6 linked regions of the Homo sapiens genome follow. The protein of the gene in region 1 purifies or fractionates together with the protein of each later gene. This does not show direct contact. Each region holds a gene or a part of one and is shown in the gene's direction. Other genes may lie near its edges.

What was found.
Region 2: the proteins of ALDH2 (region 1) and QPRT fractionate together in Homo sapiens (co-fractionation; one large-scale study listed by BioGRID). This does not show direct contact.
Region 3: the proteins of ALDH2 (region 1) and PAFAH2 fractionate together in Homo sapiens (co-fractionation; one large-scale study listed by BioGRID). This does not show direct contact.
Region 4: the proteins of ALDH2 (region 1) and ESD fractionate together in Homo sapiens (co-fractionation; one large-scale study listed by BioGRID). This does not show direct contact.
Region 5: the proteins of ALDH2 (region 1) and HEXA fractionate together in Homo sapiens (co-fractionation; one large-scale study listed by BioGRID). This does not show direct contact.
Region 6: the proteins of ALDH2 (region 1) and MCRIP2 purify together in Homo sapiens (co-immunoprecipitation; one large-scale study listed by IntAct). This does not show direct contact.

What each region holds. Positions count from the first base shown.
Region 1 is NC_000012.12:111,797,933-111,801,432, forward strand, and holds part of ALDH2 (aldehyde dehydrogenase, mitochondrial isoform 1 precursor), read left to right. Parts: intron 1-145; coding exon 146-310; intron 311-1,901; exon of another isoform or gene 1,902-1,973; coding exon 1,974-2,131; intron 2,132-3,500. UniProt on the Homo sapiens protein: Required for clearance of cellular formaldehyde, a cytotoxic and carcinogenic metabolite that induces DNA damage.
Region 2 is NC_000016.10:29,682,180-29,685,679, forward strand, and holds part of QPRT (nicotinate-nucleotide pyrophosphorylase [carboxylating]), read left to right. Parts: intron 1-3,500. UniProt on the Homo sapiens protein: Involved in the catabolism of quinolinic acid (QA).
Region 3 is NC_000001.11:25,995,264-25,999,415, reverse strand, and holds the start of PAFAH2 (platelet-activating factor acetylhydrolase 2, cytoplasmic), read left to right. Parts: upstream 1-1,352; 5' UTR 1,353-1,391; intron 1,392-1,794; exon of another isoform or gene 1,795-1,943; coding exon of another isoform or gene 1,944-1,968; intron 1,969-4,152. UniProt on the Homo sapiens protein: Catalyzes the hydrolyze of the acetyl group at the sn-2 position of platelet-activating factor (PAF) and its analogs, leading to their inactivation. Hydrolyzes propionyl and butyroyl moieties approximately half as effectively as PAF.
Region 4 is NC_000013.11:46,773,162-46,776,661, reverse strand, and holds part of ESD (S-formylglutathione hydrolase), read left to right. Parts: intron 1-3,500.
Region 5 is NC_000015.10:72,366,015-72,369,514, reverse strand, and holds part of HEXA (beta-hexosaminidase subunit alpha isoform 2 preproprotein), read left to right. Parts: intron 1-3,500. UniProt on the Homo sapiens protein: Hydrolyzes the non-reducing end N-acetyl-D-hexosamine and/or sulfated N-acetyl-D-hexosamine of glycoconjugates, such as the oligosaccharide moieties from proteins and neutral glycolipids, or from certain mucopolysaccharides.
Region 6 is NC_000016.10:644,828-648,974, forward strand, and holds the end of MCRIP2 (MAPK regulated corepressor interacting protein 2), read left to right. Parts: intron 1-1,644; exon of another isoform or gene 1,645-1,781; intron 1,782-2,589; coding exon 2,590-2,717; intron 2,718-2,955; coding exon 2,956-3,057; intron 3,058-3,292; coding exon 3,293-3,363; 3' UTR 3,364-3,647; downstream 3,648-4,147.

The sequences.
Region 1 (3,500 bases):
CCCTGTGTGTTTCCTCTTCTGATCTTGCTTTCTTATGACCTTGGTCCATTTCCCAGTTGTCTTGTTGCCTGCATAATTCTAAGCCTGAAGCCTAGGAGAGGTCTGAATCCGATGTCTCCATAACTCTGGGTTCCTTCTCCCACAGGTGGATGAAACTCAGTTTAAGAAGATCCTCGGCTACATCAACACGGGGAAGCAAGAGGGGGCGAAGCTGCTGTGTGGTGGGGGCATTGCTGCTGACCGTGGTTACTTCATCCAGCCCACTGTGTTTGGAGATGTGCAGGATGGCATGACCATCGCCAAGGAGGAGGTGAGCACTTGGGGCCAGTGCTCTGGAAACATTCTTGGCGGGAGGTGAGGTAAACAGTTCAGCCTGGCATCCTGATGCTGTCACCCATCTGCTGGCTTGGGGCCAGATCTCAAGTTATACCCAGAACCAGTGCCCATAACACGCTATTCATAGTATGTATCTGATCTTGTCCCTCCTCTTCAGCTTGTACCCTCTGTCTGGGAGATCGTCTGCATTCCTCAGCATGGCCTGCAGGCCTTGGTGTCCTGGCCCTCAGAGCCAGGAGTCTAGGAATGACATTGTCTGCTCCTTCCCATGACCTTTTTTCTTTCAGTCAGATTCTTGCTCTGTTGCCCAGGCTGGAGTGCAGTGGCATAATCATGGCTCCTTATAGCCTTGAACTCTTGGGCTCAAATGATCCTCCCACCTCAGCCTTCTGAGTAGCTGGGACTACAGGTGCTCACCACCATGCCTGGCTAATTTTAAAAAAATTTTTTAGTACAGGCTGGGTGCAGTTGCTCACGCCTGTAATCCCAACACTTTGGGAGGCCGAAGTGGGTGGATCACCTGAGGTCATGAGTTCGAGACCAGCCTGGCCAACATGGCAAAACCCTGTCTGTATTAAAAATAAGAAAAAATTAGCCCTGCGTGGTGGCGCTTGCTTGAAATCCCAGCTACTCTGGAGGCTGAGGCAGGAGAATCGCTTGAACCTGGGAGGCAGAGGTTTCAGTGAGCCGAGATCGCGCCACTGCACTCCAGCCTAGGCAACAGAGCGGGACTCTGTCTCCAGTTTTAGCCACGCCTGGCTAATTTTTGTATTTTTAGTAAAGACAGGGTTTCACCATGTTGATCAGACTAGTCTCGAACTCCTGACTTCGTGATCTGCCTGCCTCGGCCTCCCAAAGTGCTGGGATTACAGGCATGAGCCACCACGCCCGGCTTATTTTTTCTCTTCTCGTTTTGAGATGGAGTCTCACTCTGTCGCCAGGCTGGAGTGCAGTGGTGCAATCTCAGCTCACTGCAACCTCTGCCTCCCGGGTTCAAGCGATTCTCCTGCCTCAGACCCTACTAGTAGCTGGGATTACAGGCGCACACCACCACGCCCAGCTAATTTTTCTTATTTTCAGTAGAGATGGGGTTTCACCATGTTGGCCAGGCTTGTCTCCAACTCCTGACCTCAGGTGATCCACCTGCCTCAGCCTCCCAAAATGCTGGGATTACAGGTGTGAGCCATCGTGCCTGGCCAAAAATTTTTTTTTTTTTTTTGAGTAAAGACAGGGTCTCTCTGTGTTTGCCAGGCTGGACTCGAACTCCTAGACTCAAGCAGTTCTCCCACCTTGGCCTCCCAAAGTGCTGGGATTACAGGCATGAGCCACAATGCCCAGCTGACTTAAATTCTTTGACACTAAATCTACGTGTCACGTGTGAATAACATACCTGGCAGGATTGTTTAGAAATGGGATACTGTATGTAAAGCCCGGGGCGCACAGGAGGAAGTTGGCCCCTGTTAGCTCCATTCCCTCTGTGTTCTGCTGAGCTTGATGGCTGTTGTCTTCCCCTGGAACTGTTAGAGCATGGCTGGGGGCTTATCCCCCAATCTGGAATCATCTGTTCTGCTCTGAGAGAGCTCGATGGCAGGTGCCTCCGTGTTGCCGAACCCTCCTACGCTGCTCTCTCACTCCAGATCTTCGGGCCAGTGATGCAGATCCTGAAGTTCAAGACCATAGAGGAGGTTGTTGGGAGAGCCAACAATTCCACGTACGGGCTGGCCGCAGCTGTCTTCACAAAGGATTTGGACAAGGCCAATTACCTGTCCCAGGCCCTCCAGGCGGGCACTGTGTGGTAAGAGCCTCCCAGCAGCCCCTCACAACCCAACAGAGATTCCTCAAAGCCAGGGCCTACTGGAATCTGGTGGTCACCATCCTGGAATTTGGGGAGCTGGGCTCAGTTTCTCCTGGGTCAGGGTGTGATGTCGATTTGAGAGGTCCTGCTACCTCACCTCCGAAGGATCAAGCTTCTCTGTGGTGCAAAGGCCCTGCACCTGAACTTGGCAGGCAGCGGAGTGGTGGGGCTCCTCCCCAGCTGCCTCAGGGCAGGAGACCAGAGCAGAGGGACCCATGATTGTGACACTGATCCTAAAAGCTTAGCCTCTGCTTCACACTTAGCCCCCACTAGGATGGCTATATTTTTATTATTTATTTATTTTTAGTTTTATTTTTTCAGACAGAAAAAAATATTCTACCCAGGCTGAAGTGCTGTGGGGTGCGATTATAGCTCACTGCAGCCTTGAACTCCTGGGCTCAAGCAATCCTCCCACCTCTGCCTCCTGAGTAGCTGGGACCACAGGTGTGTACCACCACACCTGGACAATTAAAAAACATTTTTATTTTTTGTAGAGATGAGATCTCGCCATGTTGCCCAGGCTGGGCTATATGTATATATATTTTAAAGTATTGGTAAGGATGTGGAGAAATCGGAACCCTCCTATGTTGCTGATGGGAATGGAAAATGGCACACTCATTGTGGAAAATAATTTGGGAGCTCCTCAAAAAGTTAAACATGAAGCCCCCATATGACCCAGCAATTCCACTCCTAGGTATTTATCCAAGAGAAAGAAAAACGTGCTCCCACATAAAAACGTGTATATGAATCTTCACAGCAGCATTATTTGTAACAGCCAAAAGGTGAACACAACCCAAATGTCCGTCTGTAGATGAATGGATACAGAATGTGATCTGTCCATGCAATGAAATGTGGCTCAGCCACAGAAAGGAATGAAGTAGCTGTATGAGTCTGTTCTCACACTGCTGGTAAAGACATTGCAGAGACCGGGTAATTTATAAAGGAAAGAGGTTTAATGGACTCACACAGTTCCACGTGGCTGGGGAGGCCTCACAATCATGGTGAAAGGTGAAAAGCATGTCTCACGTGGTGGCAGACAAGAGAAGAGAACTTGTGCAGGGAAACTCCCCTTTATAAAACCATCAGATCTTGTGAGACTTACTCACTGTCACAAGAATAGCATGGGAAAGACCTGGCCCCATGATTCAATTACCTCCCACAACACGTGGGAATTGTGGGAGCTACAATTCAAGATGAGATTTGGGTGGGGACAAAGCCAAGCCATATCAGTAGCCATGCATGCAATAGCATGGATTAATCTTGAACATAACATTGAGTGAAAGAACCCAGACTGTCTGGGTGCGGTGGC
Region 2 (3,500 bases), on another chromosome or scaffold:
CCACCACACCTGGCTAATTAAAATAAATTTTTTTTTTTTTTAGAGATGGGTTCTTGCTGTGTTGCCCAGGCTGGTCTCAAACTCCCAGCCTCAAGCGATCCTCCAACCTCAGCCTCCCAAAAGTGTTGGGATTACAGGCATGAGCCACCGTGCCTGGCTCAAATCTTTTCATATGTGAACATCTCAGCATGTTTTCTTTCTTTCTTTTTTGAGATGGAGTTTCGCTCTTGTTGCCCAGACTGGAGTATAATGGCGTGATCTTGGCTCACTGCAACCTCTGCCTCCCAGGTTCAAGTGATTCTCCTGCCTCACTCTCCCAAGTAGCTGGGGATACAGGTGCCCACCACCATGCCCAGCTAATTTTTTTGCATTTTTTTTTTTAGTAGAGATGGGTTTTGCCGTGCTGGCCAGGCTGGTCTTGAACTCCTCACCTCAGGTGATCCACCCACCTTGGCCTCCCAAAGTGCTGGGATTACAGGCGCAAGTCACTGCGCCCAGCCTCATCATGTTTTTTTCTTAAAAGATAAAGACTTTTCTTTTTACTACAACCACAATACTATTGTCAAAACTAAACTTTAAAAATTTCCTTGGTGTTATCAAACATTCAATGTCCAGATTCCAGTGGTTTCATAAATAGCCTAATTTGCTTTTAGTTTGTTTGAATTAGGATCTAAGTAAAATCTACACTTTGTGATTGGTTAGTATGTTTTAAGAGTCTTTGAAACTTTATTTTTTTGATTAAAAAATGTTTAATTTAGAGATAGGGGTCTCACTATATTGCACAGGCTGGTCTCAAATGCCCCAAAGTGCTGGGATTACAGGTATGAGCCACCACACCTGACTGATTCTTTTTTTTTTTTTTTGAGATGGAATCTCACTCTGTTGCCCAGGCTGGAGTGCAGTGGCGCAACCTCGGCTCACTGCAACCTCCGCCTCCCAGATTCAAGCGATTCTCTCACCCCAGTCTCCCGAGTAGCTGGGATTACAGGCGTGCACCACCACACATGGATAAATTTTGTATTTTTTTAGTAGAGACAGCGCTTCACCATGTTGTCCAGGCTGGTCTCGAACTCCTGACCTAAGGTGATCTTAGGCCCACCTTGGCCTCCCAAAGTGCTGGGATTACAGGTGTGACCACCACGCCCAGCCAATATGTGGTCTTATGAGAGCATTGGTTCTTTTTTTTTTTTCCCTGAGGCAGGGTCTCACCCTGTTGCCTAGGCCAGAGTGCAGTAGCTCCATCATAGCTCACTGCAGCCTCCAACTCCTGGACTCAAGGGATCCTCCCACTTCAGCCTTCTGAATAGCTAGGACTACAGGCGTGTGTCACCATGCCCAGCTAATTTTTAAAATTGTTTTTGTAGAGATGGGTTCTCACTATGCTGCCCAGGCTGGTCTCAAACTCCTGGCCTCAAGCGATCCTTCTGCCTCGGCCTCCCAAAGTGTTGGGATTACAGGCATGAGCCACCGCCCCTGGCCGAGCATTGATTCTTGATCCTCATGTGCATCTGAGTCACAGAGCAGGGTGGGGGCTGGCTCTTCCCCAACCTGGATCCCTGGAAACTACCCCCAGAGATTCTGGTTCACTGGGTTGGAATGGGCCTGAGCATCTGAAAGTTTGAAAAGCTCCCTGTGATTCTGGTGTGCAGCCCAGGCAGAGGCCCCACTGTGTCCACTTCTCTTGAAAGGAGTGGTTCACACCAACACCCCCACTTCCCTACCTCCCGTGCGCTCCTCGAGCATGACAATGTGGCTTCTGCCCCCGACACATGGCACAAAAACCGCTCTGGCACAGGCCTCACAGTTGCTAAGTGCAGAGCCCCATCCTCAGTCTTCCTTCTATTTACTTCTGCTCACCTCCCAAAACCCTCTTCTCCTTCCCAGGTACCCACTCCTGATGATGCTTCTCTTTTTGTTGGACATGCCCTGTGGGTTCTTTATCTTATTATTTTATTTTAGAGACCGTGGCTTGCTCTGTCACCCAGGCTGGAGTGCAGTGGTGCAATCACAGGTCACTGCAGCCTCCAACTCCTGGACTCAAGCCGCAGCCTCCCGAGTAGCTGGCGAGTAGCTGGGACTACAGGCGTGCACCCCCATGCCCAGCTAACTTTTTCTTTTTTTCTTTTGTTTTTTGAGACGGAGTTTTGCTCTTGTTGCCCAGGCTGGAGAGCAATGGCACTATCTCGGCTTACTGCAACCTCTGCCTCCCAGGTTCAAGCGATTCTCCTGCCTCAGCCTCCTGAGTAGCTGGGATCACAGGCGCCCACCACCACGCCTGGCTAATTTTTGTATTTTTAGTAGAGACGGGGTTTTGCTATGTTGGCCCCGGAGTTCAATTTTTGTATTTTTAGTAGAGACGGGGTTTCACCGTTTTCACCAGGATGGTCTTGATCTCCTGACCTCGTGATCCTCCCGCCTCGGCCTCCCAAAGCGCTGGGATTACAGGCGTGAGCCACCGCGCCTGGCCACGGCAGCATCTCTTCTGAACTCCAGAGCCATTCCCTACCACCCTCTGGGCACCACCATCCACATCTCCTGCTGCCGCCTCAGCCTTAACCTCTGCAAAACCAAATCCGTTCTTTCTCTCGAGCTCTGCAGAAGCTAAGCTGTTTCACCAGGCCACGATTCAGGAAACGCTTTGGGATTCAGCTTCTGTTCTTGTGAAATGGGAAGAATCCCTGTGGTGAGCTCCAGATGAGAGCACAAAGGGGAACAGGGGTGCCCGCGGCTGGCACGCCATGGCTGGCACGCCATGGCACTCAGTGGGGTCACCGCCCCCTCCTGCTGTCCCACCTCCACCCTGCCTGCTCTTCTCCTGGAATGACTCCTTCTGCCAGCTCTCAGCTACCCAGGCCAGAGGCCCAAGGCTCCCACATCTCTTTAGCTACTAATTCTGGTAGATCCCCTTTTGGAAATAGCCCTCAAATCTACCCCAGAGCTACTGTCAAAGTTCAGGGCTCCATCTCTTTTGGTTTTTTTGAAAATATTTTTTCAAATTAATTATTTGTTGGCCGGGCGCAGTGGCTCACACCTGTAATCCCAGCACTTTGGAAGGCCGAGGCAGGTGGATCACCTGAGGTCAAGAGTTCAAGAACCAGCCTGACCAACATGGTGAAACCCCATCTCTACAAAAATACAAAAATTAGCCAGGGATGATGCTGCATGCCTGTAATCCCAGCTACTCGGGAGGCTGAGGCGGGAGAACCACTTGAACCCGGGAGGCAGAGGTTGCAGTGAGTTGAGATCACACCATTGCACTCCAGCCCAGGCGACAGTGAGACTCCGTCTCAAACAAAAAAAAATTATTTGTGGAGGCAGGGTCCCACTATGTTGCCCAGGCCTCAAGTGGCCCTCCTGCCTTGGCCTCCCATAGCACTGGGATTACAGGTGACAGCCACCGCGCCCAGCCTACTTTTTGTCTGGCCAAGACTACCTCAGCCTTCTTTTGCCTCCCAATCTGTCTCCAGTTGGTGGCTGAAGTGACCCTTCTGGAGCAAAAC
Region 3 (4,152 bases), on another chromosome or scaffold:
GGGGGATGTGGGCTGCAAGAGTAGGGTGGAGGGGGCGACTGCAGGACTCAGTACCTGACCTCAAAGAGCTCACAATGTGTCAAGAGTTAAGACCTCTAATACAGGAGATACCCAAGGCAGTGTGAGTCGACTCACATGTGCGAGGCACACACAGATGTCGGCGGAAACTTTGGAGGCATGAACAAAGCTCCCAGAGGAGGGGCGCTGAAGGGTGGGGGGTGGGGCGTGGGGGAGTGCAGGTTGGAGAAGACCTTGAATGTCAGGCTAAGCAGTTGGGACTTCACTTCATAGGTAGTAGAGGGCCGTTGAACGTTTTTGAGCTGCCTGAACGATCCAAATTTCCTATAGAAGTTTACAGAACTCCTGAGGATGGGCTCTGCCTAACGCCCACTCCCCCGAGAATACTCTCCTTCCATCCCTCACACTTAGCTGCAGCCAGCACTGAACTTAATGCCATACTCTGAAACGTCCTTCACAGTCTCTGTACTCCTGGCTACGTTCTTTCCTTATATCGGGTCTCAATGTTAACAAACATCACTCCCTCTAAAAAGCCTTGCGGACACCGCCCTTTTCCCCCAAGCCTGGCCAGAGGCCCCTTTTCAAGGCTCCCACGCTTGCTGTGTCTCCCCATGAGATCACGGCTCTGTGCTGTCATTATTCATTTGTCTGAATTCTCTGCTAGACTGTGATTCTGTTGAGGCTAGGAGCGGTATCTTGTCCATCAGTGTCGCTAAGAACCAGCATTAGACAGTAATGTGGGATGGATGCGGCCCAGCAGATTACTCGGGTTCCTCCCCTTTCTCTGCCAGGGAGTCTTTTGAGGACAATGGAAAATCACAGGTGTCAACAGATGCAGGCTGGTAGGGAATGTCCCCTTAATTTGAATGATCAGTCTATTATTCTTACAGGAAGCAAAGTGTGCAGAAGACACAAAACAAACTCCAACCTCCTCCCACCTCCTTGAGAATAAAGCGAAGCGGGGACCATTTCTAGGCACGCCTGAGGACTATTTGAGGAGGGTGAGGCGGAGGGTTACGCACGGGACTAAGGCAAAACCCTCCGCTCGAGAGCAGAAATCGCGGCGGCACCTCTTCAGGCCACCAGGGGGAGGAATCACACCGCATCCCAGGCCTTGGGCGGTTTCGCACGACCACGCGGGGCTGGACGGTCGCGTAGAACTCTGGGAGGTGTAGTTTTAGAGTTGTAATGCGCAATCTCGCGCACTGTACATCGGGAATTGTAGTTCTAGATTGAGGAACGAGAAGTGCTTCCAAGCGTCCATTTTGAGCCTTGGAAACTACGACGACCAAAGGGCCACGGGTTCATGGGTCGTTTCTCATTTCCGTCGAGTTAAACGTCTGGGGCTGCTTCTGAGGAATCAGCTTGACTGGGTAAGTTTGATTGGAGAAAACACCTATATCTCAATTGAGCTTCCTGCAGACTTTTGTATTCTGGCCCGGTTTGGGGCCTCGGCGTCTCTCAGTCATAGGAATTGCACATTAATCTTCGTCCTTTACGTTTCCTATTCAGACACCTGTAGCCACCCGCTCCCTTGACCCTCCCACGGTCGCCTCGCACTTTTAACGGCCAGTGCCCCTGGAATCCCCACTGAGCTCCCGTCCCAGGACCCAGCCCCCGCAGCCCCACCTTGGACCCCACAGCCCTACCCTGATTCCTCGGCCCTACCTTCACCCTGCAGCCTCACATCCCTGAACCCCGGGCTTCTTTATGCTCCTCCACCCTTTGTGTACTTTACTCTTACTCTCAGTTTTCTGTTTTTCATGGCGGTGGAAGAAGGGTCCCCATTCCTTCTTTCCGATCCGCGATTACCCTGGACTCGAAGTCAGCAGACCCGGTTCTAGGCCAGCTCTGCCTCTCACCCTCTGTGACCTTGGGCAAATCATACAACTCTGGGACTCAGTTTCTTCCTCTCTAAAACGGAGATGACTGTTGCTCCATCAGTCTCAGGTGAGGAGTGTTGAGGAGCCAACAAGCTAGTATGTGTGAAGATGCCTTGTAAACTGTAAGACCTTCACAAGAGACAGAGATTATTTTTATCACAATTATTAATGCTCTGGAACACTCTTATCAGGCCTCTTCTCTAGCTCTGCCACCTTGTTGCTCAATCTCATCCCTCGAGTGCTTGGTGTCTTCATTGTCTACGAGCTGGATGATATTTCCTCACTTCCTCCAGAGACCAAAGGTCAGGCCAATGAGCTTTTAGTCTTCAGAGAGCTTTGTCTGAAAGGAAGCACAAGAGAAGTGCTTATCTTGGACTGTATCTTGAAATAGCCAGTGATGAAAGTGTCACACAGCTGGCAGAGCAGCAGTCCTCTGCTCACCAGAAACAGGGTCCCAGCAGGAGAGGACAGCTGCAACCTAAGCCCCATCCATTCCCTCTGGGCTCCTCTGGGCCTGTTCAGTAGACACTGGCTTTGGTAGGGGTGTCTGAGGCCTGAAAAGGCTGCTGGGAAAGAATCTGTTTTGCCAAAGGGCTTAATCCAGGAAAAATGAGAGACCTTGGCTAGGAAAGAGAGACATAGCATTGTTAATTAGTTCCTAACATTTTATAAGCACTGAAAATGCACCAGGCCCTAGGCAATATTTTCACTTACGAAGTATCCATTTTACGTATAAGGAACTTGAGAGGCATGTAGTTAAAATAATTATAGTTGCCTCCTATGGTTATAGTACCTTCTATCCATCGAGTGCTTTACATGCATTATTTAATCCTCATCAACAATCTCGTGAGTAGTTACTATTTCTTTTTTTTTGAGATGGAGTCTCGCTCTGTCGCCCAGGCTAGAGTGCAGTAGCGCGATCTCGGCTCACTGCAAGCTCCGCCTCCCGGGTTCACGCCATTCTCCTGCTTCAGCCTCCCAAGTAGCTGGGACTACAGGCGCCCGCCACCAGGCCCAGCTAATATTTTGTATTTTTTTTAGTACAGACAGGGTTTCACCGTGTTAGCCAGGATGGTCTCGATCTCCTGACCTCCTGATCCGCCCGCCTCGGCCTCCCACCGCGCCCGGCCCATAGTTACTATTTCTTTTTGAGACAAGACCTCGCTCTGTCACCCAGGCCGAAGTGCAGTGGCACAATCTTGGTTCACTGTGGCCTCCGGCTCCCAAGCCCCAGCAATCCTCCTACCTCAGCCTCCTGAGTAACTGGGACTGCAGTTGCATACCACCACATCCAGCTAATTTTTTTTTTTTTTAATTTTTTTATAGAGACAGGATTTTGCCATGTTGCCCAGGCTGGTCTTGAACTCCTGGGCTGAAGCAATCCTTCCCATTTGATCTCCCAAAGTTCTGGGATTATAGGCATGAGCCACTGCGTCTGGCCATAGTTATTATTTCTGTTGTGAGAATAAATTATCAGAAGCTTAGAGTTTGAGGAACTTGTTCAAGATCACACAGCTAATAAGTGACAGGGGTAGAATTCAGAGTCATCAAAACCTTTGTCCCCCATTATTTCATATAGCCTTATTTTTAGATCAAAAACAAAGATTAAAGAAGACTTGAGATGGGTTTAAATCATAGCCAAATGAAGGAACATTTATTGAGTCCCAACTATATGGGGAAAGCATGCAGATAGACAGTTTGGTCTACAAAAAAATATAAAACCCAATCTTTACCCCCGGAGTAGATCTGAAGAGATGAGGCATAAGTGTGCCAAAAATTAAATAGTATTCATTGGATAAATTAATTATTGAGACCAGCTATATGCAGGGCACTACATTAAGTCTAGTGATAGGAACATGCTTCTGGGTGGCCATGGGGATTATAGCAAGTGAAATCGTAGTCGTGAAAATGTGGACCAGAACACAGTATATACTCAGTAAGCGTCTGCTGCATGCATACGTGTCTGAATGAAAGAAAAGTTCATCCAGAGACATTTCTAATCAAAGTCTAGACCAGAGGTTCTCAAACTTTGCTGATCAGAAACACCTGGGAAGCTTTTACAAACGAATTGATCACTAGAAATAGGGGCCCCCAGAATATACATTTTTGAAAAGCTTCCCAGGTGATTGTGACAATAGGTTCAGGAACCTAAGATCTAGATTCTCTATGGACCACTGTTGCAGGCAAGTCACTGGTTGAAAACTGCTAGAATAGGTGTTAATCCAAGAGCTGCCCTAAAGTAGTCTAAGAT
Region 4 (3,500 bases), on another chromosome or scaffold:
TGGTACATTAGTTTGTAAAATGCTTTCACAGCATTAACTCATTGTTAATTCTTATACCGCCAAATGAGATATCATTTCTTTCCTATCCATCTGTTTTACAAATGAGGAGACAGGCTCAGAGAAGTAACCTACTTATCTAAGGCCACATAGCTAGTAAGTGGTGGAACCAGAACTGGAACTAAGGCCATTTAACTGCAAATACTGACCTCCTGTCATTTATCAAGCCATTTTCAGACGGCATGATATTCTCCTGAGGAGCAAAGGAATGGAATTAGAGCTAGCACAAGGAGAAATTGTGCATAGCTTGCTGCCTACGTAACTTATGCAGAAGATCTGAGCAGTCTTCCTGTTTTTAGGGATATTTTGCACATGTGAACTATATAGTGAGAAAATGTCAAAAACTAATACATGATATACTGTTTGTCTCTTAGTGTCCATCCTTGAGTAATAGAATTTTGTTTTAGATTTATTTGAACATTTACCATCACAATTAAATTTTAGGTCAACAACCAGCCTTGAGAAATCCAAATACCAATTTGACTATAAATATAGTAATACGTTTAACTGCAATAACTATAGCTATAAGTGCGTACCAAACCATGTTTTTTCCAAATGACCTTAATTTCTTGGCACTACCCATGTTGGATACCTCATTTGCTTCCCCAAAGACTGGGCCCAAAATTTCTGTTGTTTCTACAATGATTCTGCCTGCCAACAAAGTCTGAAAATCTCAAGTTTGTTATAAAAACAGCACAGTTAGAACATGATGACATTCCTGGAGGGAAAAATAAGTCCACTTATTTGTTTCTAAAATGCCTGTATCCCAAGCAACTAGAACACATAGTTGGCTATACTTAATGAGGAGTCAAGACAAACCATTCAATTCTTCTAAAAAAGTAAGAAAGTATTCAAAGCACCAGAGTCACAATGTTGAGCTCAGGTGCAATTTTCTATTCACTTTACTTCCAGCATGGTCGGGTTAAGAGTGGACTACATAGCTTGAAGCGGATTTCGTTGAGATTCGTTGTAATTGAATCAACAACTGAATGAGCATGCCTAAGTAGTGGCTCCAGAGAGTCTGCTTTCAGATTTTCTTGCCAGCTTTGACCCAAGATTACCCTGGGTCTGCGAGTTTTATCACCTGCTTTATCATTTGATTACAAGTATAGTATAACTGTATTTCCTTGTGGGATAGAAGCTGTAAAAAATAAGCTGAAAATAATAGGGGATATATATAAATAAACGATCTGAGAAAGAATAAAGAAAATAATTACAATCATGCACATGATTTACTCAACTTCATTCTTTTACCTCTTTTTAATGGTGTTAAATGCTCACAATTTATATTTATACTCTGTCGAATGTCAAAAAAAATTTTTTAGAGAGAGGGGTTAGTGCATCGGGGATATTTATTTGGTTATTATTTTATATAATTTTTTCTTTTTCTATTTTGGCTTCAGGGAATCTAAATTGAAAAAAAAATACTAGGTAGCAGAATTCTGATATCTAGTGTACAGAGATCAAATCTTAGTCTGAAAAAGAAGGGCCTAGTATGTCTTATCTTTAGTTATTGGAGTTACACAGTGAGAAAAAAAAATTTAGTGACCTAATACTGTGAAGAAGTTTCCAGAAATAGTAATCTCTTTTTGTGGAATAGAAGGAGAGGCTATACTACCTCCTTAAGTCTCAGGACCTTTTTGAAGATTGAGAGGCTGTTTTAGCCTCTGCATCTGCCTGCTAGAGAAGAGTAAGAACATGGCAGAGAATCCCAGAAATGTAGAGCTCTCTCATTCATCTCTGTATCCCATGCTTATTTAGCATAGGTATCTAGCACAGAGACTCTCAATACTTGTTAAATGAATACAGTGCAAAGTCTTCCTCCTTATACACTGAAGAGATTTAATAACCTGGGGATTCTTATCCAAGCTTTTCTAATTGGGTCTGGAAAATATATAAGAAAACACTGCCTGTTAGGATAAACATCCATCATAGCTGCTGGAGCACTGCTCCCTTTTTGAGAGCTGAGTGAAGAATGAAAGAATGAAAGGTGTTCATTTATTTTTATACTCCAGGAGTCAAGAGTTTTGCTACCAAGGATTTTCCATTTAAAGTGTGAGGTAGAGGAGAAAAGTCCCCTTCAAGTGTCACTAAACATAGGCATTTGCACAAGCTGCTTAACATATCATACCAACTCATTCATCAAAGAATTTAATTAAAGAAGCCATCCCCATTTAATAAGACTGATAAATAGAAACCCTCGTCAGGGATGATACAATTAGCTCGAATTGTGTAACTTCAGCAGGATACCAATTGTTCAAATGTATTCTATTGCCTTTTTGTTGACATTTTTTAAAATTCTTGGGCCCTCAATGGCAGGCATTTTCTTCTTTCTCATATAGGTGAATCTTTATCATTATGGAACTTATGGTCATTTGTTTTGGATTTTAGATGTCTTGTCTTGCAATATATTCCTGGGTTTACCTTGGGACTTCTCTAATAATAATGATGGCTATTCATATGTGTCTGATGGCTCTTAACACACAAGAAACTAAGGATAAAAATATGGCATACTCAGTCACATTGGAACTTGGTCACACAAGTCTTTTGAGATATCTGTTTCCCTGCATCTGTACCCATTTTCTATCAGATCCATCTTTTGATCTGTGAAAAATGGCAGATAATACTTGGTACATTTTACAGGTTTGGTGGCCTAAAACTCCAGGCCTGTTTAACTTCTTAACAATTCAAGAATTATATGGATGGAAAATGTTTTTCTTTACATTTCTTTCTTTATATAGGAAACTGTAATTTAGCTCTAAATTCAACTAGCCAGCTGGGACTAGTCTAATCATTGAGAGACATGACACCAAGTAATTCCGAGGCTCAGCTTTAATCTTGACAACATTCCTGTCACATTCACTTCCATGATAGAAGACAGATTGCTTTAGAAGACTTAAGTTACCTTGACCTTAAACTAGAACTTTTTATTAACAGCTGTTCCCAAGATAAACATTTAATACCTCTCTGGAAGGGAGAGATTGAGAACATTTACTGATTCATCAAAACCTTGGGGATTTCCTTGTTCTCTGAAGCGTCAGTGATATTTTTATTAGCTCTATTTTTATTTCTTAGGTGCTTAGAAAAATTCCCATCTTTTCCCATCAGTGACCATTCACTAGTTCAAAATGGGAAAAACAAAATCTTTGTTAGACTTTCATTTCTTTCGGTTTATTCAACCTTGTATTTTAATTGTAGATAGGGATAAATTATCTGGTGTTTGATACCCTTAGAAAGTTCTTCCCACCTGGAGTGTAAATTAGTTTAACCATTGTAGAAGATAGTGTGGTGATTCCGCAGACCTAGAGGCAGAAATGCCATTTGACCCAGCAATCCTATTACTAGGTGTATACCCAAAGGAATATAAATCATTCTGTTATAAAGATACAAGCACACATATGTTCACTACAGTACTATTCAATACTATTCAATAGCAAAGACAT
Region 5 (3,500 bases), on another chromosome or scaffold:
AAAGAAAGGGATCACTCTTATGTTTCTGCAGTTTCCTAAATTTCTTCTACTGGTCCTGAAAATAAGTGATAAAATAGAGTCAATTTGCATCATCCTCAAGAGGTTCCATGACCTTTTTGGAGCCACTGACAACAAAGTCAGCTGAAGAAAGGAGGTTGGGTCTGTAGGGGTCAGAGAGGTGTATGTGTGAAGAGTTTTCTGTGGTGTGAGCTGTCTCAAGGTTTACATGTTTACAGTCCATTGTAATACAGAAATGGATTATATTTTCTTCTGTATTCCTGGCTGTAATGAATAAAACCCATTATTGGGTCAGGAACTTGAGTCTTCTCTCTTCTTGTCCTTTGTTCCTGTTTCAAGCTGTGGCATTTGCTTAAGCTTCCTGGCCACACACTCAGCCCTGATCCCCAGCCAACTGCTGTATGCTATTGTTGTGTCCACATCTTGAGGCTGGTTAGGCTTGGGTGTGGTGTAGAGCTCCTTTCTGTGGAAGCGTATACTCAAAAATACAGGACGTATGGGTGTTTGTCAGCTGTCATTAAGCAGCCTTCCCCTTCTTTTGTAAAGCTCTTGGGATTGAGGGGGTAAGAGAGATGCCTTACTAGGTACACTGTTATGCATGAAAAGTTTAACTACTTACTGTTTGTTCAACCTTGTCCTTGTTGTAACTAGGATTCCACATTAGTGGCTTTGTTGTTTTGCCTGGAGCTGCAGTCCTAGGTTGGGGGAGATTCAGAGTTCTAAGGCCATGTCCCTCTTGTATTTTGAAGTGTCAGCCTGTTCATATACAGAATGGCATCTCACAGTAGTGAAGCCTTCAGTCTCCTATAAGAGGCTCATGAAAAACCCTTCAGGGAAGCTGCTCCTAGAGTGTGGCTTTGCCATAGGAGACCCTGCCCCAGGACTCCTCTGGCCAAATGAGAGAGTCGAGGTTTGCTGGGGCAAAACTGTCTTATTGGGAAAAGGGAAGTAGAACACGGAAGGAAACTAGCATTTATTGTCTGGCACTTGATGTATGTTATTGCCCTTTAATCTTCATAAACAGCTCTGTGAGGTCAGTGTTATCCCAATCTTTGAGAATGGAGACATAGAGGCTAAGTAACATGCCCAGGGTTACACAGCTTGTAGGGATGGAGCAGAAATTCCAGTCATGCATAAATTTTGCTTTTGTCACTGTACAGTCTTGTAATATACTCATACACGTCTTTGTCAGTCCAGTTAGCAATTTGGAAAACTACTGGCCTCTGGCAGGATTAAGCTCTAATCACATCTTAGTGTTAATTACTTCAAATAGGTAGTAACTTCTAACATCTAGTTACTCATAAGCACTCAGGTTATGAATATTTTGATCCCTGGCCCATTGTTACCAGATTCCAGTAGCATTTCTTCCTTCCTCCCATCTATTCTTAGTACAGGTAGTATTTATTAAGTAACTTTAATTGTCAATAGTACTAGGTCCAAGGAATATTAAATTGAACTTCCCCGTCCTTAAAGAATTTACAGTTTCTGGAAGTGGGGATACAGACAGAGTGTGATATTTTTCTATGATAACTGAAGCACAAGGTACTTTGGGAGTGCAGAAGAGGAACACCTGACCTAAGTGTATGGGGGGAAAAGGAGAAAGTGCACATTGAAAAGGCTTTCCTAGAGAGCTGTTGAAGGAGATCTAAAAGTAGAAGTTAGTGGGGGTGAAGATAGTATTCCGCATAGAAAGAACTGCGCGTGGAAAAGGCCTACAGGCGAGAAGCCTTCATGCCATATTCAAGGAACTCAAGGTGTCTAGCTGAAGTACACAACTCTAGGGTGGATCAGCAAGTTCTGAAGCTAAAGAGGTGATAGATGGAAAGGTCATGAAATGGCCTAATAAGCCCTGGTAAGGAATGGAGCTTTATCCTAAGGTCAAAGAAGGCCAGTAAAGTCCAGTCAACAGGATAAGTGATGTGACTAAACTCTAGCTACATTGGGGCTTGCTGTAGAGTGGGATTAGAGGCAGGAAACCCAGTTAAAAGGCTGCCAACAGTGGTCTAGATAAGAGAGAGTAGTGGCTGAAGTTGGGTTGATGGCTGTAAGGACAGAGAAAACTAGAAAGACTGAAGAGAGATTTAGGAGGTGGCTGCTTGGAAGTGGGAGTTAGGTTGGAGGGAAAGGGTGCTGAGGATGACTCCCAGATTTCTGACTTAGCAGTTTGAATGTTGGCTCTCATTCACTCGTGCTGCCATTAACAAAGATAGGGAAAATAGTAGGAGAGGAAGGGAAGGAGTAAAAAGAGCTAAATTGGTGGTCGTGGTGGCTCACACCTGTAATCCCAGCACTTTGGGAGGCTGAGGCAGGTGGATTACCTGAGGTCGAGAGTTCGAGACCAGTCTGACCAACATGGAGAAACCCCATCTCTACTGAAAATACAAAATTAGCTGGGCATAGTGGTGCATTCCTGTAATCCCAGCTACTCTGGAGGCTGAGGCAGCAGAATCGCTTGAATCCAGGAGGTGGAGGTTGCAGTGAGCCGAGAGTGCGCCACTGCACTCCAGCCTGGGCAACAGGAGTGAAACTCCATCTCAAAAAACAAAACAAAAAAAAAACAGTGAAATTAAGAGGTTGAGAGGTAGAGTGAGAATCATGAAAAGTAAATTTGATTTTGACGTGTTGACTATGAGGTATCAAGCAAACAGTTAGCTATGTAGTACTAGAGCTTGGGAGAATGAGTTTGAACACTTCCGAGGAGAAGAAGGTCCAAAAGGCAACCACAGGAGGGTGGTTGAGGAGGAGGAGGAGGATGTTGTTGGATGACTGCTAAGCCAGAACATGGGTTAGTTCTTCCTCTTGGGTGTGAAAATCATCTAGGATAATAGCCAGCCTTGAGGTGGAGAGGAATACTGGGCAACAGGATCCAAAGTATTAAGTAAATAAGGTTGGGCATGGTGGCTCACACCTGTAATCCCAGCACTTTGGGAGGCTGAGGCTGTGGGATCACTTGAGGTCAGGAGTTCGAGACCAGCTTGGCTAATGTGGTGAAACCCCGTCTAATTTGTAAAAATAGAAAAATTAGCCAGGTGTGGTGGTGCACACCTGTAATCCCAGCTACTTAGGAGGCTGAGGTAGGAGGATCACTTGAGCCTGGGAGGCGGAGATTGCAGTGAGCTGAGATCGCGCCACTGCACCCCAGCCTGGGCAACAGAGGAGGACTCCATCTCAAAAAAAAAAAAAAATTAAGTGAATAAAGAAGTGATCAGGAAGCTACAGAGTGTTGTAACAAGGAGAGCTGAAGATTTAACAGCTGGATGACATGAACCACAGAAGAAAGGTGTTTTATTACTTGGTGGTGGTGGAATGGATGACCCAGAAGCAGCCCCATATCTCAACCCTATGATGTGGGAAGTGGCTGCCTCTCAGAGCATGTTGTAGGGGAAGTGGTGTGTGGTATTCCTGGGGAGAGCCAGGCTTCAGTTAGGGAGGAAGTAGAAGAGGCTGAGTAATTAAGTAACTACACAACAAGATCTCAGAGG
Region 6 (4,147 bases), on another chromosome or scaffold:
ACATCTCCTGGTGCACCCAGAGGGTCAAGGCTTGTCACCCATGATGTATGCTGGCTCTGGTTCCTGCCAGGCATGGGTCTGGGCACTGCCCACGACAGTGACAGACCAGATAAACCTTGGTTTGTTTTTTTAATTTTTATTTTTATTCTGAGATGGAGTCTCGCTCTGTAGCCCAGGCTGGAGTGCAGTGGTGTGATCTCAGCTCACTACAAGCTTCACCTTCCGGGTTCAGGCCATTCTCCTGCCTCAGCCTCCCGAGCAGCTGGGACTACAGGCGCCCTCCACCACACCCGGCTAATTTTTTTGTGTTTATAGTAGAGACGGGGTTTCACCGTGTTAGCCAGGATGGTCTCGATCTCCTGACCTCGTGATCCACCCACCTCGGCCTCCCAAAGTGCTGGGATTACAGGTGTGAGTCACCGCGCCCGGCCACCTTTGTTTGTTTTTGAGACAGAGTCTTGCTCTGTTGCCAGGCTGGAGTACAGTGGCGTGATCTTGGCTCACTGCAACCTCCGCCTCCCAGGTTCAAGTGAGTCTCCCACCCCAGCCTCCGGAGTAGCTGGTATTACAGGTGCCCGCCACCATGCCCGGCTAATTTTTAGTATTTTTAGTAGAGACAGAGTTTCACCACGTATGCTAGGCTGATCTTGAACTCCTGACCTCAGGCGACCCACCCGCCTCGGCCTCCCAAAGTGCTGGGATTACAGGCATGAGCCACCACGCCCAGCCCAGATACACCTTTGACAAGTTCTTCCTCCTGGTGGGAGATGGATAGGGGAGGCAGTAAGATAAACTGAGGCGATATAAGTAATAAGATGAAACGGGGCCATGTGATCACCCGACCCCAGGGCAGATGGAGGGTGTGGGGACCGCCACAGGAAGGGACAATGGAATGAACCCCACAGGGCGAGAAGGGGCAGCCTGCAAGAGACGGGGGTGGGGAGGCCCAGTGAGGGCAGGCTGAGGGGCTGGCTTGGGGGCTGTACTGGGTCAGGGCCATGGACTCTGTTGTTGGATTTGCTATGATATCCTGGTGCTGCCCCCACCCAGCATGTAATATGCTCAGGTGGATTCTCTCCCAAGCCCAGCTTCATGGGCTGAAAAAGGGATGGGCTGTGGAGGGGAGAGGAGAGGATGCACTCCACAGCCTTCACCTCCCTGGGCTGAAGTTTGCCCGGAGCAGTGTCCCTGGAAGTGGGAGAGGTTGGCGGTGATCCATAGGTGCTCGCCGGGCCGGTGCCCTTTCCCCCAGAGAGCAGCAGCCTTACGTAACCAGAGCCCCTGGGGCGGTGCCTGCCTCCTGGGGCCCATCTCTGCCCGAGAGCCGCCACCTCCGCCCTTCGATTCACAGCCCCTGGCAATGTTCTTGTCTTCTTAGACATTGATAATCCAACCTCCAAGCTTTCTTGGAGTTTCTGGCTTTCCGAGGTGGGAGTGGGTTGCAGGCAAGGGGGCTTTCCAAGTGGACAAACTTTATTCCCTGTGGTTTGTGCAGAAACTCAGGCAGCGGGCAGGCCTGGGAGGTGCCCCTGCCCCTGTCCCATCTCCACCTGCACGTTTTAAGATCCTCTGTGGCCACCAGACCCTGCCAGCCCTGGGGCCGGCAGGACCCTGCGCCCCTCAAGACACTCCTCTTTATTTTAGTGCCCCTCTCAGCTGAGGAGGAACCGAGAGCGGCGCTGGGGCACCTGAGCCCAGGAAGGCAACAGGCCGGCCGGGACCGCGAGTGCCTGGCGGAGCAGGCGCAGCCCAGGACTCCCGGCTCCCACCTCCGGCTGTAGGTGCGGCCCCATTCCCTCCACGGCCCTGTCCCGGGCTTTGTGTGCTCAGGGCTCGGCCAGCTGGGGCCGCTCATCCCTGCCCTGGGCCCGGCTGGCCGGGACGGGCCCAGGGGCCCACCAGACGTTGCGTGCGGCACTGCGGGAGCCATCTCCTTTGGCATCGCCCCTTGTCTCGGGCCGGTGGGGAGTGGGCGAGGGTTATAGTCACTCTCCCGACTCAGGGACTGCCCATCCCGGCACCCAGTCCTCATCCCATGGGACGTGGGGGCAGCCAGGGAGAGGGCAAAGGCCCCCGTTCCCGTCCAGGTCCATCCGTCCATGGAGGGAAACATCGTGGAGATGGAGGTGCTTCTGTGGGGCGAGAATGTGGCCTAGAACTACACCCAGAGTGGGGGGGTTGGGGCAGAGAGACATGGTCATGGACTGGGTCGTGGCTCAGGTCAGAATCTGGGCTGCTGATGGGATGCAGGTGGCAGCATGGGCACCTGCAAGACCCTCGGGGAGGGGTACTGAGTGGGGCCCGACCAAAGGTTTGGGACACTCTAAGACTGAGGCCCCCACCCTACAGTCACTCACTTCCCTCAGGACACAGGGCTGCAGGTGTGAGCTGAGCTGCCGATGGCTTGGGGACTGCAAGAGAGGCCTGGGCCACCGGCTGCTGTGGGTGGCTGCTCTCTCTGGTTCAGGAAGTGCCTAGGCTGGCCAAGTCTGGGGAAAGTGGGCTGGCCCGGGGCTGCTCCTGAGTTCTGCCAGGCAGCACCGCACCTGGGATGGGCACCAACCATGTCCGTCTCCTCCCTTCCTGCAGTCCAGGGCCAAGGCTTGTGTTCAATCGTGTGAATGGCCGGCGGGCCCCCTCCACGTCCCCATCCTTCGAGGGGACCCAGGAGACCTACACAGTGGCCCACGAGGAGAATGTCCGCTTTGTGTCCGAAGGTAGCGAGCGGGGCCAGAGGGTGCGGCATAGGCTGCTGGGTCGCAAAACCATGGACCCGGGATGGCCCCACTTCAAGCTGACCCACAGCCGCTGCATGGCTGTGCTTTTCCTTGGCACTCTGCCCTTGTGTCCTGTGACCAGCCCTGTGTGGGGCTGGAGTCCAGGGTGACCATCAGGCCCTGGGTGGGCGATGGGGTGCCTGGGACCTGGCTCAGCCCGACTGCCCTCCTCCCACAGCCTGGCAGCAGGTGCAACAGCAGCTGGATGGTGGCCCAGCCGGTGAGGGCGGGCCAAGGCCTGTGCAGTACGTGGAGAGGACCCCCAATCCCCGGCTGCAGAGTGAGCCCCCCAACCCTGTCCCCCCAGGAGAGACCCCCCAGCCCCTCTGATCCTGACCCAGGCCCTGCCAGGTTCCCACCCCAGGGGATGAGGGAGGGGACTCTTGTGCAGAAACCCCTTCTTCCCAGCGCCTGCCGCACTCGGAGTCCGGGTGAGCGGCTTGTGGTTAGCTCCAGGGGAGACTTGCCGGCTGGCCTGGGAGGCAGCATCACTGCCCAGCCTTCTCTGCCCACAGACTTTGTGCCCATTGACCTAGACGAGTGGTGGGCGCAGCAGTTCCTGGCGAGAATCACCAGCTGTTCCTAGTGGCTGCTGGGAGGGGGCGCTGCTACACGGCCGACCTGTCGCCAGGAGAGAAGCATGGCGCCCTGCCCACCCACTGCGCCTGGCTGGGTGCCGGCCACACCTGAAGTGCCAGCATTTGGACTTTTGCACCTTTTTTTCCCTTGGCCCGGCTGTCCCAACCAAGCTGCCATGGCCAAGGGCCGAACCCGTCTGACCTCAGCCCTGCTCACTGTGCCCAGGGACCAGCGACCAGCCCCTGGGGCTGGCAGGGAGGAGCTCCAGGCTAATAAAGTGGAGAAACTGTCTTTTTGGAGTGTCTTTGACTTGGGAGGGTGTAGGGGGGGTTCTCATGTCCAGTTCCAGTCCACAGCCTGGGACGCCAGGCCCAGCACAAACTCCCCTTGTAGCCCTGTTCCTTCAAGCCGTTAGCTTCTCACCCAGCTGCCCTGCGACAGGTAGGAGGGACGTTAGCCAGCCCACCTTGCTTGGAAGTCTGGGGACCCCACTTGGTTCCTCTTTCCTCTCCCGTTGGCGTTGACTGGGACCGAAGCCGAGACTCAAGGCCTAAAGACATTAAATGGCCCCGGAGTGCAGTCCACCACCCCCCACTACCGGCACTGGGGCTGTGTCTCAGAACGCCAGGTCCCATTCTGAATCCGCCGGGCCCGGCCGCAGGACACTGGGCGAAGGAGTACGTGGGGAACCTGATAGGACGAACGTGGGAACCAGCCCCTCCGCGGGCGCCCGCACTACCTTCCCTGATGGACGGGGATGACCCAGCCCACCTGAGTCAGGACCCAGGGTA